2 separate regions of the Homo sapiens genome follow, and region 1 is linked to region 2. The links come from fine-mapping of genetic effects on gene expression. Tissue or cell type: whole blood. Region 2 holds a variant in brackets; the other region holds the start of a gene. All regions are shown on one strand. Distances are between the middles of the regions.

What was found. PIP is the estimated chance that this variant, and not a neighbour inherited with it, causes the effect.
Region 1: PRKRIP1 starts here. The variant in region 2 is fine-mapped to the expression of PRKRIP1 in whole blood (TOPMed, PIP above 0.99).

Annotation. Positions count from the first base shown.
Region 1 is chr7:102,392,273-102,400,373 of GRCh38, reverse strand. It overlaps PRKRIP1 (PRKR interacting protein 1), which reads right to left and starts at 4,011. Exons shown (of 6, transcript NM_024653.4): 1 at 3,837-4,011; 2 at 2,676-2,754; 3 at 726-826. The coding sequence starts at 3,962. It overlaps LOC100630923 (LOC100289561-PRKRIP1 readthrough), which reads right to left. Exons shown (of 9, transcript NR_038967.1): 5 at 2,676-2,754; 6 at 726-826. RefSeq lists enhancers at 3,493-4,034, 3,816-4,055 and a silencer at 4,076-4,155.
Region 2 is chr7:102,338,157-102,346,257 of GRCh38, reverse strand. It overlaps SPDYE6 (speedy/RINGO cell cycle regulator family member E6), which reads left to right. Exons shown (of 8, transcript NM_001146210.4): 8 at 1-512. It also overlaps the pseudogene PMS2P12. Among named protein-coding and RNA genes, the nearest start is that of SPDYE6, 14 kb to the left of the region's middle. The variant C/T (reference allele first, on the strand shown) is at 3,495.

The DNA.
Region 1 (8,101 bases), 54 kb before region 2:
TTATGGCTAAATATTACAATATTTTATGATTATTTCTTGGTGTTATTTTTTTTTTCCTTTTTTTGAGATGGAGTTTCACTCTGTCGCCCAGGCTGGCATGCAATGGTGCAATCTAGGCTCACTGCAACCTCCACCTCCCACGTTCCAGCAATTCTCCTGCCTCAGCCTCCTAAGTAGCTGGGACTACAGTTGCCCACCACCACGCCCAGCTAATTTCTGTATTTTTAGTAGAGACGGGGTTTTGTATTTTTAGTAGAGACTCTGCATTTTGTGCTGTCCGTAGAAGGCAGACCTCACACCAGCCACAACTAGCAGTATCTATTCTTCCTCAAACGCTTTTTTCTTTTCTTTTCTCTCTTTTTTTTTTTTTTTGAGATGGAGTTTCGCTCTTGTTGCCCAGGCTGGAGTGCAATGGCACGATCTTGGCTCACTGCAACCTCCATCTCTTGGGTTCAAGAGATTCTCCTGCCTCAGCCTCCTGAGTAGCTGGGATTACAAGCATGCACCTGGCTAATTTTGTATTTTTAGTAGAGACAGAGTTTCTCCATGTTGGTCAGGCTGGTCTCAAACTCCCGACCTCAGGTGATCCCCTGCCTCGGCCTTCCAAAGTGCTGGGATTACAGGCCTGAGCCACCACGCCCAGCCTCTTCAAATGCTTTTTTCTAAAGAAAGTACACGCACACTGCCCAAACATGGGGGCTCAGCCAGCCTTCTGGCTCACTGACCTTCTCAGCCATGGCATCCATGTAGTCCTGTCGCTGATATTCTCTCCGGCGCAGATGTCTGTACACGTGGAACTCTCCACTGCCGGCCCCAGCACTTGAACCTGTAGCCAGAACAGTCCACAGTTCTAGATGAAATTCAGTTACCAACACAGGTCACCCTTAATCGAGGGTGACTAAAGAAACAAAAAGTGGAAGTCGTGGAAGGGACCATGCCTTCCTTTCTCCCCACTGTATCCAGAACTGGCCCAGTACCTGGCATATTGTAGATGTCGTGAATTATTTGTTCTATGAATGTTGAATGTAAAGTCACTAAAAATCCCACTCAAATGCAGTATCAGGAGGGGCAGACTGTGGTTAAGTGACTTTCTCACCTCCTCCATGATTTCACATTTGACACGCTAAATTTCTAGTGAGTTGAAAAGACATCCATGATACATTAAATGAAATAAAGGTGCTTACAAAGTTGTATATGTAGAACAATCATATTTTTGTAAAAGTGTTTTTTCTTCAGCTTTTTTCTTTTTTTTGAGACAGGGCCTTGCTCTGTCACCCAAGATGGAGGGCAGTGGCGCAATCACAGCTCATTGGAGCCTCAACCTCCTGGGCTCAAGCCATCCTCCTGCCTCAGCTTCCCAAGTAGCTGGGACCAGAGGCATGCACCACTATGCCTGGCTAATTTTTACATTTTTAGTAGAGATGAGGTCTTCCTGTGTTGCCCAGGCTGGTCTCAAACTCGAGCAATTCTCCTGTCTCGGCCTCCCAAAGTGCTGGGATTACAGGCACGAGCCACCGTGCCTGGCCTATGTTGCTTTTTAAAGACATAATGCTATTGCACATTAAACTACAGTAGAGTATAAAGAAAACTTGTATGTGCAGTGGGAAACTAAAGAATTTACATGATTCCCTTTATTGCGACATTCACTTTAACTAGGTTGCCTGGAACTAAACCCGCACCATCTCCATGGTAAGCCTGTAGATATGTTAATTTATGATCCAACAAAATAATAAAACTATTTTTATTTACAAAAAAACCACAATGCGTTATTAAGAATAATGCAGGAGATGGCCGGGCACTGTGGTTCACAGCTGTAATCCTAGCATTTTGGGAGGCTGAGGCGGGCGGATCACCTGAGGTCAGGAGTTCAAGACCAGCCTGGCCAACATAGTGAAACCCAGTCTCTACTAAAAATAAAACAATCAGCCAGGCATGGTGGCACGGGCCTGTAGTCCTAGCTACTCAGGAGGCTAAGGCAGGAGAATCGCTTGAACCCGGAAGGCGGAGGTTGCAGTGAGCCGAGATGGTGTCACTGCACTACAGCCTGGGTGACAGAGTGAGACTCTGTCTCCAAAAGAAAAACAAAAACAAAAACAAAAACAAAAAAAACCGCAATACTGCAGGAGAAAATTCTATAGTGCCAAACCATAAGCAACTATAGCCCTTAAGCTAAATTTACCAATGTCAAATGAAAAACAAATAAAAGCAACTATATCCCCGTCATTGTAAAAGCAAAACACGAACATGTGAACACACATTTCCCCTCATCAGAGATTTAACAAATACCAACTACAGGATTTTTATAGCTACCTTTTTTTTTTCTTTTTGAGACAGAATGTCGCTCTGTTGCCCAGGATGGAGTGCAGTGGCGCCATCTCGGCTCACTGCAAGCTCCGCCTCCTGGGTTCACGCCATTCTCCTGCCTCAGCCTCCCAAGTAGCTGGGACTACAGGTGCCTGCCACCACGCCCGGCTAATTTTTTTTGTATTTTTAGTAGAGACGGGGTTTCACCGTGTTAGCCAGGATGGTCTCGATCTCCTGACCTCATGATCCGCCCGCCTCGGCCTCCCAAAGTGCTGGGATTAGAGGCATGAGCCACCACGCCCAGCCTATAGCTACCTTAAAAAATTATATTTACACACACACACACACACACACACACACACAGCCATTACCCATGACATCTCGGACAAATTCTGGGGGAGGTCGAGGTGCCCATTCACTCATTTTCTCTGGAATTGGAACTGCTTTGTCCTGCAACATTTAAACATGAAAGCATTTAAGTATAAACCTGTTGACAAAATTATATATCTCCCTCTCTTTTTTTAGAGACAGGTTCTTGCTCTGTTCCTCAGGCTGGAGTGCAGTGGTGCAATCAGAGCTCACTGCAGCCTTGAACTCCTGGGCTCAAGTGATCCTCCCGGTTCAGTCTCCAGAATAGTTAGGACTCTCAGGCGTACACCACCACACCAGGCAATTTTTTTATTTTTGTAAAGACAGGGACCCACTATGTTGCCCAGGCTGGTCTTGAACTCCTTCCTGGCCTCGGACCATCCTCCCGCCTGGCCTCCCAAAGCGCTGAAATTACAGGCAGGGGCCACAGCACCCAGCCCAAGTTACATCTCTTAAGACCAAAGAATTTTAATTGACTAATGAAGCAGGACTGCTTTGCTACTTGGACACAGAGCTGATTTTGTGTTCTTCCCTCTGTCGTGGCTTTTTTCATCCTATGTACTCTTGGGTATAACACAGTCCACACCTTCCCAGGGCTACGCTTTCCAGAGCAGAACTGAAAAACCTAAGCCATAGTTTCCAGCTAGAAACCGCCAACTTTAACACTACTAGATAAGAAGAGTCAAGCTTTTCTAGTTAAAGGTATAAAGGACGTTCCCGTTCAATTGTTTTTATGATTGAGGGGACCGAGGCCCAGAGGGGGTGTGAGCGGGAGAGGAGTGACCAGCTCCAAACGTCTCGGCCACTGTCTCTCTAACGATCAGTGTTGTTTAGAGTATACCCTTTTGCTAACCCACAAATTCTACCTTTTCAGTCTAACGCTTTTTGTTCACAGAAAGTTAAACCAGAAGGGGTCTTGGAGCACGGGAAGCCGCTCCACCGTGCTTTGATTCAAGCTGGGCTCTCACACAAGGACAGACGGGAAGTTCACTATCTCCGGGACAGCCTCCTTCTCCTCCTCCTCCCCAAAGACTGCTCTTGGAGGGTCGGATACTGAGTTTCTGAGTTTGGAGGCGGGGAAGGTGGACCTGCGGGAACCCTGAAGCGCTGCAGAGGAAGGGGGTGGGCCTCGGACGGGCCGTGGAGCCTGGGCCTCGTCTCACCGGGTTCTTCATGAGCCGCTCCAGCTTGAGCTTCTGCTCCTCCGCCGCATTCTTGGGGATGACGAGCGTCTGCGGCTCTTTCTTGGGCCTCGGTGGTCGCACCGAGGAGGCGGCTGGGCTAGCCATGGCAGCCTTCCAGTTTCACAAGCGAGCGGCGGCGTCGGCGCGCAAGTATGACGACACAGCCGCGCGCCGGCGACGCATACGCAGTCTCCGCAGAGGGGAACGGAGGCGGGGTTGCAAGGCGCAAGCAGCCTGCTGAATATTCATGAGCCTGAGGCTGGCGTGGGTTATTGTGTTCAAAGCTGCGGGGTTTCATTTCCTGTTCCTGAACAACAAATCAGTGCAGCTAGATGCTCACGTCCCTGAAGGGGAGGTGGCCCTCCGTGCCTGAGTAGCCTGGCCCTAGCCGACCTCTCCAGTCCCCGCGGGCGTCTTCGTGCCACCGAGCAGCCCCGCTGATGCTCTCGGCACCTCCTCCCCGTCGGCTCTCCTCGCCTCCCGGCTTTGTCCGGGCACTTCCTTGGATCTGGTGCCCCCTCCTCCATTTCTGACAATCTCCTGTTTACATAAGACAGCGCAAACATGTCACTGAGCTTCCTGAAGACTGGGACATTCCTCCTTTGTCCGCCTTGAATTACTCTATACCTGGCCCCCCGCAAATACACCTCTGCCAATGAATGACCGTCTCGTAGTGTGAGGCACAGTAATAAACCTAAGGAACCATGTCTGCTCATTCTGCTTGCGAGCAGGATTTCACAAAGGCCGTGACTCGGTGACTGAGCGCAGCCCTCTCCAATAACGCCCTGAACAATAAGCTGGGAAGAGCGAGAGAGAACACAGGTTTCCACCTCTCTTGCCTGAACACTGCATTTTTAGAAAAGACAAGTTCAATGATCCTAGCCCCTGCCTCTTCCTGTACATAATCTCTGACGGGATTAATGATTATGCTTCTATAACTTTTTTTTTTTTTTTAGAGACAGGGTCTCGCTTGGTTGCCCAGGCTGGAGTGCAGGGGCTCGATCATAGGTCACTGCTGCCTTGAACTCCCGGGTTCAGGCACTCCTCCCACCTCAGCCTCCTGAGTAGCTGAGACTACAGGCGCATGCCACCACACCCAGTTAATTTTTTATTTTTATTTTTTGCAGAGACAAGGTGTTGCTGTGATGCCCAGGCTGGTCTTGAACTCCTGGGCTCAAGCGATCCTCCTGCCTGGGCCTCCGAAAGTGCTGAAATTATAGGTGTTAAGTCACCATGCCCAGCCAAGCCTCTGTAATCTGTAACTAGATAATACCCTCACACACAGCCTTGATGAAATTTTGCTCTATTGTTAACTTCTGAGCACATTAGATATAACTTTTTTTTTTTTTTTTTGAGACAGAGTCTCACTCTGTCCCCCAGGCTAGAGCTCAGTGATGCAATCTCGGCTGACTGCAGCCTCTGCCTCCCAGGTTCAAGTGATCCTCCTGCTTCAGTCTCCTGAGTAGCTGGGAATACAGGTGCACGCCACCACGCCTGGCTAATTATTGTATTTTTAGTAGAGATGGAGTTTCACCATGTTGGCCAGGCTTGTCTCGAACTCCTGACATCAGGTGATCCACCCGCCTCAGCCTCCCAAAGTGCTGGGATTATAGGCATGAGCCACCACGCCCAGCTTGATATAACTTCTGAGCACATGCAGGGCACCACCAACTGTATATAAATGTTTTTATATAAACTGTATATAAATATAAATATATAAATGTGTGCTGAAACTCTGTTTTGGAGCAGTTTAACAAACTCTGTGAAAGACTTTCCCTGGTTACAGTCCTCAGTAAGATTGCAAAAAACCAACCTTAATTTTTTAAAAGCCTGATTTTTTGTTTAGTTGACATTGAGAAACAGAAAAGGCCCGGCATGGTGGCTCACACGTGTAATCCCAACGTTTTGGGAGGCCGAGATGGGCAGATCACTTGAAGTCAGGAGTTTGAGACCAGCATGGCCAACATGGTGAAACCCCATCTCTATTAAAAATACAAAAATTAGCCAGGTGTGGTGGTGTGTGCCTGTAATCCCAGCTATTCAGGAGGCTGAGACAGGAGAATAGCTTGAAACTGGGAGATGGAGGTTGCTGTGAGCCAAGATCGTGCCACTGCACTCCAGCCTGGGTGACAGAGCAAGACTCTGTGTCTAAAAAAAAGAAAAAGAAAAAGAAAAAAAAATTAGAGAGAGAAAGAGAAAGAGAAAAGCTGTTGCTCACATACATTTGGTGTTACAGACCATAGGCTGTTTGGCTCCCCTTGTAATGAAACTTAACAGGGATCCAAGCAGATTTCCCAGACAAGGCATTTATTTCAGAGCTTGTGCTTGAGTGCAGGGAAGACAATGGAAGCAGAAGTGAAGGGATCCTCCAGCTGACTTGTGGAAGAGCCAGTGGGGAATTTTTTTTTTTTTTGTGAGACAGAGTGTTGCTCTGTCGCCAGGCTGGAGTGCAGTGGTGCGAACTCAGCTCACTGCACCTCCGTTTCCCAGGTTCAAGCAATTCTCCTGCCTCAGCCTCCCGAGTAGCTGGGACTACAGGTGCACGCCACCACGCCCGGCTAATTTTTTGTCTTTTAGTAGAGACAGGGTTTCACCATGTTGGCCAGGATGGTCTCAATCTCCTGACCTCATGGTTCGCCCGCCTCGGCCTCCCAAAGTGCTGGGATTACAGGCATAAGCCACTGCGCCTGGCTGGGAATTTTTTTTATTAGGCAAAGCATGGGAATTGACATCAGGGGTAGGGTATGCAGGCTGGGCTGGGCAAAGCACGTGAGGGTATGCAGGTCGCATATCTGGTTTTGAGGGTATGCAGGTCGCATATCTGGTTGCGATGGTTATCTTAAGTAATGAGTCACCTGGTAGTCTGGCTGGTGGCAACAAGGGTGTCAATCAATTGTTCAGCATTCCTTCCCGAGGTGGGACACTCCGCAAGCTTCATTTGATATTTGGATCTCCTAAGGCCAGTCTCTGGAATTCTTTTTTTTTTTTTTTTTTTTTTGAGACAGTTTCGTTCTTTATTTTCTTTGTATGACTAAAGCCTCGGGGTTAGCAGCTATATTGTCAGCGAGGCAATGGTGTGGGTTTTGTGATCAGTGGGACAAAAGAAGGAAAAAGGGAAAGGATGTGAAGGAGAAGCTCTGTCCAGTTCCTGTTCTGTTTCCCTGGGAGCTGGACAGACATTCACAGCTGGGTCTTGGTGTTCTCTTGTCAAACAAAAGTAATTTCCAGGACACCAACATCACACAAGACCATTCCGTGACCACAAAAACCTGGTGTGGTGGCTCATGCCTGTAATCCCAGCACTTTGGGAGGCCGAGGTGGGCAGATCACCTGAGGTCAGGAGTTTGAGACCAGCCTGGCCAACATGGTGAAACCCCGTCTCTACTAGAAATACAAAAAATAGCCAGGCGTGGTGGTGCACACCTGTAATCCCAGCTACTCGGGAGGCTGAGGCTGGAGAATTGCTTGAACCTGGGAGGCAGAGGTTGCAGTGAGCTAAGATTACGCCTTTGCACTCCAGCCTGGGCGACAGAGCAAGACTCTGTCTCAAAATAAATAAATAAATAAAAATAAAAATAAAAGAAACATTTGCTGGAGGGACATGGGCTCCTAGGGACAGGGTCGCCCTCCCACTGAGTCCCCAAGAGGATGAACAGGTGGACAAGTGGATGGTACCTGGAGGGTGAAGTGTTTGTTCTCCAAAGGTCATTCCTGGCTGCCCAATAGTGGGTGGTTTTCTAGGAGCTCAGGGTGGAATTAAGGGTCCTTAGTGGCCCAGGTCTGTCACTGGAACCTGGGGAGGGCTTGGCCTGGCTGGGGCCATGCACACAAACTCACCCAGGATCACACACATTAGCAACCAGTACCTCACTTTTCTCCAAACACTCCACAGAACGAAGGTTTTTGTCTACAAAACAAAGCATCTTTTCCTCCTTGGAGAACTCCCATACAGGCTTCTCAACTTGGCCAAAATGCTACCTCCTCCAAGAAGCCTTCTCAGATTGCCTCTCCCACCCCTCACTTCCAGGAAGTGAATTGCTCCCTTCTTGGTGCTCTCCCAGCTCTGAATCCCAATAACTGGTGAAGTAGTTACCACTATGTCCTCACCATCTGTGTCCCCATGGGCTTGGCAGTGTGGTGGGCTGGGCCAGAATCCCAGCATCTAACCCTGGCATGGTGTAGAGTGGGTACTTCCAGGATGCTTGGAGAATAAAGGAATGAAAACATATATGAAGACTGAATAG
Region 2 (8,101 bases):
TTATTTATTTAAATATTATTTTTACATTAAATATTATTTTAAATATTTTGGAAATACTGGTATTTTTGAATAGATGCTGTTTCTACAAAGCTGTGTGATGGGTATTATAACTGTTATATACACATACATATAATTTTGTTTTCCTTTTTAAGAGAGGATTCTTTTCATCCTAAATCTTTTACCTTTCAATCTTTGTATCTATTATTACACGTGCTGCTGAAGGGAGCATGGATTTTATCTATGATACTTAGTTAACATATATATTACATTTATAGCTATGTAGTAGTTCCCCTAAATTCTTGTAAAAATAAATTTTTATTTGATATTTCATATATGTTTGAAATGTGAGAATTCAGATGTAATTTTTTACCTTGTTTTGGCATGTTTGTATATTACTTTAAAGAGAATGTGTGTTCTAAAGGAGGACATGAGCTGTGTGTTTTCAAGAGAACAATAGAGTGGGTCTCTTGGGGAAACATAATAAAAATGAACTTTTCTCACCTTCACAGCAATTGTGATCATATTGGTCTGGATTGATTATTTGCTGCCCAGTGATATTTTTCCTTAATGGGGTTGTGGTTATTTGAACATATTTATTAGCTCTGGAAGATAATCCTGTGCTGTTTTTTATGTAGAAAAAAACATAAGGCTGGGTGCAGTGCTCACACCTACAATCCCTGCGGTTTTGGAGGTCATGGTGGGAGGATCACCTGAGGCCAGGAGTTTGAGGCCAGCCTCAGCAACATAGCATCTACATCTATTTTTAATTTTTATTTTTTAAAGAAAAACAATAGAAGAGAAGGCTGATCCCAAGCTACAGGGTTTTTTTGTTTGTTTGTTTGTTTTGGAGACAGAGTCTTGCTCTGTCTCCCAGGCTGGAGTGCAGTGGCACAACCTCGGCTCCCTGCAACTTTCACCTCTGGGTTCAAACAAATTCTCCTGCCTCAGCCTCCCAAGTAGCTGGGACTACAGGCACCCGTCTGTACGTCCGACTAACTTTTGTAAAAATAGTAGAGACAAGGTTTCACCATGTTGGCCAGGCTGGTCTCGAACTCCTGACTTCAAGTGATCCACCTACCTCGGCCTCCCAAAGTGCTGGGATTACAGGCATGAGCTACTGCGCCCAGATGCCAAGCTAGAGTTTTAAGGCAGGAAATGAGAGAAAGATATTGAGAGAGGAAAACCAGGTGGTAAGAAAACTCTAAAGGTGGCCGGGCGTGGTGGCTCACGCCCATGATCCCAGCAGGAGTTTGAGACCAGCCTGGCCAACATGGTGAAACCCTGTCTCTACTAAAAATACAAAAATTAGGCAGGCGTGGTGGTGCACGCCTATAATCCCAGCTATTTGGGAGGCTGAGGCAGGAGAATCACTAGCAGAGATTGTGTCTCCTCACACCCTCTCAAAAAAAAAAAAAAAAAAAAAGTTCGTTCCTGCAGCAGTTAAAGCTGTGAAAGACAGGCACTCTGACATGCAATTCTTTGTGATTTTTCTTTTTCCTTTTTGGAGTTGGGGTCTTGCGCTGTCACCCAGACTGGGGTGCAGTGGTGTGGTCATAGCTCACTGCGGCCTCAGACTCAAGCTCAAGCGATCTTCTTACCTTGCCTTTCAAATTGCTGGGATTATAAGCATGAGCCACTGCATCTGGCCTGAGACACAATTCTGTTTTTGGTCTTTTTTTTTTTGGGGGGGGGATGGAGTCTCGCTCTGTCACCCAGGCTGGAGTGCGGTGGCGTGATCTTGGCTCAATGCAAGCTCCGCCTCCTGGGTTCACGCCATTCTCCTGCCTCAGCCTCCCAAGTAGCTGGGACTACAGGCGCCCGCCACCATGCCTGGCTAATTTTTTGTATTTTTAGTAGAGACGGGATTTCACTGTCTTAGCCAGGATGGTCTCGATCTCCTGACCTCGTGATCTGCCCGCCTTGGCCTCCCAAAGTGCTAGGATTACAGGTGTGAGCCACCGCGCCCAGCCTATGTGATGCAATTCTGATGTCAACTCCCTGATGTTACCTCAAATGCCACAGGTTAAGGCCACCAGCCCCTACTAGGCTGCCCTCGCTTTAGACACACCTGCAGGCTTGGGTGTCCTCAGACCACATGTACTTCTCACCAACTGGCTGCAAATTTGGAGGTTCCCACCATGCCCTCAAGTTCGATAACTCACTAAAACAATTCACAGAATGCAGAAAAGCATGATACTTTCTTTCTCTTTTTTTTTTTTTTTTTTTTTTCGAGACAGAGTCTTGCTCTGTCGCCCAGGCTGGAGTACAGTGGCCACCATGCTTGGCTAATTTTTGTATTTGTATTAGAGACGGGGTTTCGCCATGTTGGCCAGGCTGGTCTTGAACTCCTGACCTCAGGTGATCCACCCGCCTTGGCATCCCAAAATGCTGGGATTATAGGCATAGCCACCATGCCCGGTTGACTTCTAGAGTTTCAATAACAGAGAAGTGATTCAAGAAGGGAGACATGTTTTGTAGATGGCAGGAGCTTCATGAAAAGAAGCCAATGAAGGGCAGGACGTGTAGCTGTCTACCTACAGGAAACCAGCCAGGAGCCTCCCCACAGGGACTTCAGCACAGATGGCCGGGAAAATCTGCATTCACCTGAGCTCTGGACCTAAGAGAGGACAAGGCCTTGACCATTTCTACAGACTCACAAGATGCAATCTCTGTGGTCCATGCCCGTGGTGTGATCTGGGAAGCAGGGGGCCTTCTAAATGCCAACAACAAGGAAATCAAATGTGCAACAAACAGAAATAACGGCATTGACGTGGGCCATGGAAAGGCCTAAACAGATGACTGCAGTTCACTGCCAAGGTCATCAAAGGGGTGACTCTGAAATAATAAATTTCAGACGCCACGGCCCAAATAGCTGCACGAGGTGGGGAAGTCCTCCACATGCCTCTGCTTCCTTCGGTACCTGTTTATGAAATCAGCCGAGGTACTTCCCTGGGGAATTTCCTTTCTCTTTCTTTCTTTCGAGACGGAGTCTTGCTCTGTCGCCCAGGCTAGAGTGCAGTGGTGCAATCTCAGCTCAATATAACCTCCCCCTCCTGGGTTTTAGCAATTCTCCTGCATCAGACTTCTGAGTAGCTGAGATTACAGGTGCATGCCACCATGCCCAGCTAATATTTGTATTTTTAGTAGAGACAGGGTTTCACCATCTAGGCCAGGCTGGTCTTGAACTCCTGACCTCGTGATCCACCCGTCTTGGCCTCTCAAAGTGCTGGGATTACAGGTGTGAGCCATCACGCCCGGACTTTTTTTTTTATTTTTTGAGACGACGTTTCACTCTTGTTGCCCACGCTGGAGTGCAATGGCACGATCTCAGCTCACTGCCACCTCCTCCTCCCAGGTTCAAGCGATTATCCTGCCTCAGCCTCTCGAGTAGCTGGGATTACAGGCACCCAACACCAAACCCAGCTAACTTATTGTATTTTTAGTAGAGATGGGATGTCACCATGTTGGCCAGGATGGTCTTGAACCCCTGACCT[C/T]TAATGATCCACCTGAATTGGTTTCCCAAAATGTTGGGATTACAGGCACAAGCCACTGCGCCCAGCCCCTCCCACACCTCTTTTGGCCAAGGCAGCACAATTCAGAAGAATCTTGCCAGGGAAGACTGGTAAATGGACGTCAACGTGATGCCTATGGCTCCTGGTGGATTTAGATACCTCCTGGTGCTTATTGATATCTTTACTACCAGTTGCATGGGGGCTTTTCCATGCCAGACTGAAAACGCAGGAGATCAATGATCAACCTTCAACTATTTACTAGCAGAACACTGAGGGGACTGTGCAGTCACCAATACCTCCTATTGCACTTGGATAAACACCTCCCAGGAAATAGAGATGAATAGAAAGGACATAGTCAAACAAGCAGAATGGCTGCATTCCTTCAACCAGAAGGGTCCATTAGTCTGTTTTCACACTGCTATAAAGAACTATGAGAAACTGGGTAATTTATGAAGAAAAGAGGTTTAATTGACTCACAGTTCTGCAGGCTGTACAGGAAGCGTGGCTGGGGAGGCCTCAGGAAACTGACAATCACGGCAGAAGGCGAAGGGGAAGCAGGCACGTCTGGCCATGTTGGAGCAGGAGAGACAGAGAGAGTGAAGTGGGAGGGCTGCACGCTTTTAAACAACCAGATCCCACAAGCGCTCACTCAATATCACGAGAACAGCAAGGGGGAAGTCGGCCCCCATGAGCCAATCACCTCCCACCAGGTCCCTCCCACAACACTGGGAATTACAATTTGACATGAGATTTGGGTGTGGATACAGAGCTGAACCATGTCAAGGGTAGTTCAACCGCTGAGATTGATTGATTGATTGATTGACTGAGATGGAGTCCTGCTCTGTTACCTAGGCTGGAGTGCAGTGGCACAATCTCGGCTCACTGCAACCTCCGCCTCCCGGGTTCAAGCGATTCTCCTGCCTCAGCCTCCCGAGTAGCTGGGACTACAGCACATGCCACCATGCCTAGCTAATTTTTGTATTTTTAGTAGAGACAGGGCTTCACCATGTTTGCCAGGCTGGTCTTGAACTCCTGACCTCGTGATCACCCTGCCTCGGCTTTTCTTTTGCTGGAATTACAGGTGTGAGCCACCGCACCCAGCCAACAACTGAGATTTAGAAGGCAGTCGAGTCCACTATACCGCACCTCACCTGGTTTCTTCCTCTGTTGGGGCCCCTCGTGGCCACTGTTCTGTTACTTTTTGGTCCTATTTATTTAAATGGATGGTGAGCTGTTTGTTCTCCAGGATCCAACACTTCCACCTTCAGCTTGTATTACAACAATACCAGCCTTTCAAGCTACTCCGGGTGACCCCAGAACTCATTTGAACTCAGAAGCCCAGGAGTTTCATTCCTTTCACTTTAGGGGACTCAGTGCCCTGCTCAGCATGAAGTCGAAGCAGAAGCATGACCTCCATCCCTAATCCCTCAAGAATGAGGAGTGGAAGGTGTTGGCAGAAGGGTGGGGGTGAGGTTTGTAGATCTGTAACTGCATCAGACCAAATCTGGTTCAACTTTTTTTTTTTTTTTGACGGAGTTTCACTCTTGTCACCCAGGCTGGAGTGCAATGGTACTAACTCAGCTCACTGCAACCTCCACCTCCTAGGTTCAAGTGATTCTGCTGCCTCAGCCTCCAGATAGCTGGGATTATAAGGGTGCACCACCACACCTGGCTAACATTTATATTTTTAGTAGAGACGGGGTTTTACCATTTTGGCCAGGCTGGTCTTGAAGTCCTGACCTCCACCTGCCTTGGCCTCCCAAAGTGCTGGGATTACAGGCGTGAGTCACTGCACCCGGCTCAGTTCAACTTTTATGTAATGAGGTTGTCAGTTGTTTTTCAATTGCCATGGACCCACAGGTTGAAGGGCATGTACCCTGTGCATGCCCAGGTTAACCAAGCATGCAACCACGGAGTGGAACCTAAGAGCTCGGCCTGAAGAGCTGAGACTGATTTAAGAACTGGACACTCCATGGCAGGAGCCAGGATCCAATCAGATTGAGTTTTGGTGTCATCCCATGGCAGGATCCAGTCAGATCACACCTCCCAGCATTACTTTATTGCAAGATCCAATCAAATCACAACTCATTACCCTATGCTTATAAAACCTGACATAGCCCCCAGCTGGGTAAGGGAGATTTGAGTATTTCTTCCTGTGTTCTTGCTAGCTGACTTACAAAAAAGCTTTAAAAAAAAGGCCACGTGTGGTGGCTCATGCCTGTAATCCCAGCACTTTGGGAGGCTGAGGCAGGCAGATCACTTGAGGTCAGGGGTGCAAGACCAGCCTGGCCAACATGGTGAAACCCTATCTCTACTAAAAATACAAAAATTAGCTGGTCATGGTGACACATACCTATAATCCCAGCTACTTGGGAGACTGAGGCAGGAGAATCACTTGAACCCAGGAGGTAGAGGTTGCAGTGAGCCAAGATCACACCACTGCACTCCAGCCTGGGCAACAGAGTGAGAAGACTCTGTCTAAAAAAAGAACAGTTAAAATTAGCACCAAATGCTTTACGAGTAAAAAAAGTTTTTAGCTGCATATGTTTAAGTAACTTTTTAGATTGTAAAAAATACACATACAAAATGGAAAGGCACAAAGAAGAGAGCAAAAAGTGCATGAGATCTCACATCCAAGGATAACCGCTGAGAACATGAAAGTGCTGACTCTTCCAGCCTTTATACTATACACATTTAGGCCGTTGTTTTGTTTTTATTAAACTGTAATCATATAATACAGATAGTTTTATAATCTGGTTTTTAAACACAACAATTACATAACATTTAGCTGTTTCTTTTGCATTCAGATTCATAAGGGTTCCAGTAACTCATTTATCAGAAAACCAAGAGAAATAGTCTCATTAAAATATAAGTACATAAGGCAGGCATGGTTGCTCACGCCTATAATCCCAGCACTTTGAGAGGCCGAGGTGGGCGGATCACCTGAGGTCAGGAATTCGAGACCAGCCTGGCCAGCCTGGACAACATGGTGAAACCCCGTCTCTGCTAAAAATAAACAAATGAGCCAGGTGTGGTGGTGCGCGCCTGTAATCCCAGCTATTCAGAAGGCTGAGGCAGGTGAATCGCTTAAACTCGGGAGGTGGAGGTTGCAGTGAATCGAGATCGTGCCACTGCACTCCAGCCAGGGCGCCAAAGTGAGACTCCATCTCAAAAAAAGATAAAAATAAAAAATAAAAATAAAATATATATATGTATATATATTTTTCCAGACAGGGTCTTACTCTGTCTCCCAGTCTGAAATACAGTGGTGCAATCATAGCTCACTGCAGCCTCAAGTTTCTGGGCTCAAGTGAATCTCCCACTTCAGCTTCCCAAGTAGCTGGAACTACAGGTGGATGCCACCATGCCCAGTCAATTTTTTTTTTAATTTTTCATAGAAACAGAGTCTCACTATGTTGCCCAGTCCTAATAAACACTATGTGATGAAAAGAAAAAAGTAAATCACCCTAAGTTAAGTCTTTAATGTTAAGTCTTTAACGAGAAATGCAAATAAAGCATTTCTCAATAGATTATGGCAAGAGTATCAACTGAAGAATAAACATCTTTAGTAAATCTTTTGCTCATGTGCATTAACCAATACTCTTGAAAACCAGGATTAATTTACTGTACCTTCTTAATATTCCTTTGAAATTCCTTATGGCGCACAGGTAGTGTAGAAAATAACTGCTTCACGCTGACTGTCATCCCTCTGGGGTGGGGGTAGGGGGTTTTCTGGATGATTTTCCCATAGTGATCAAACACCAGTCGAGTCCCAACCTTCGCCGATGCGTGGCAGGTAGAAATGGTGACATCGCTGTGAGAGAATACCAGGCGTGGTGTGTTCAGTGAGAGACCCGTGATGTTGAGCATTGACTACGCTTTTCTTCACTTGCTTTTCTCTCAAAACTTTCTTAAAAAGCTGATGATCCCTCTGAGATAACCAAGATCTAAACGGTTGAGGAGTCATCATAAAATCTAAGGTTTGGCATCTAAAAGACAGTGAGACAGAGAGCACTAAACATGCTTTGTTTTGATAAAAGCTTTGATTTCATTTTTCAGGTTGAATTGCAAAACCATAAATGATCTCAAGGTTTATTTATTCACAAATAGAGATTTGTTTTGTTATTACTCTTCAAATAAAATTGTTTTAAAGAATTTTTTAAAGAATTAAAAAATTTTTTAAAATTTTTAAAGAATCCAAAAGATATTATAATTAAAATGTATATGTAGGGCAGGGTGCGGTGGCTCATGCCTGTAATTCCAGCACTTTGGGAGGCCGAGGAGTGCAGATCACTTAAGGCCTGGAGTTCCAGACCAGCCTGGGCAACACGGCAAAACCCCATCTCTACTAAAAATACAAAAATTAGCCAGGAGTGGTGGTGCACGCTATAGTCCCAGCTCTTTAGGAGGTTGAGGCACGAGAATCACTTGAACCTGGGAGGCAGAGATTGCAGTGAGCTGAGACTGTGCCACTGCACTCCAGCCTGGGTGACAGAGTGAGACTCTGTCTAAAAAAAAAAAAAAAATACATATATATATATATACACACACACACATATATACACACACACATATATATGTGTATATAT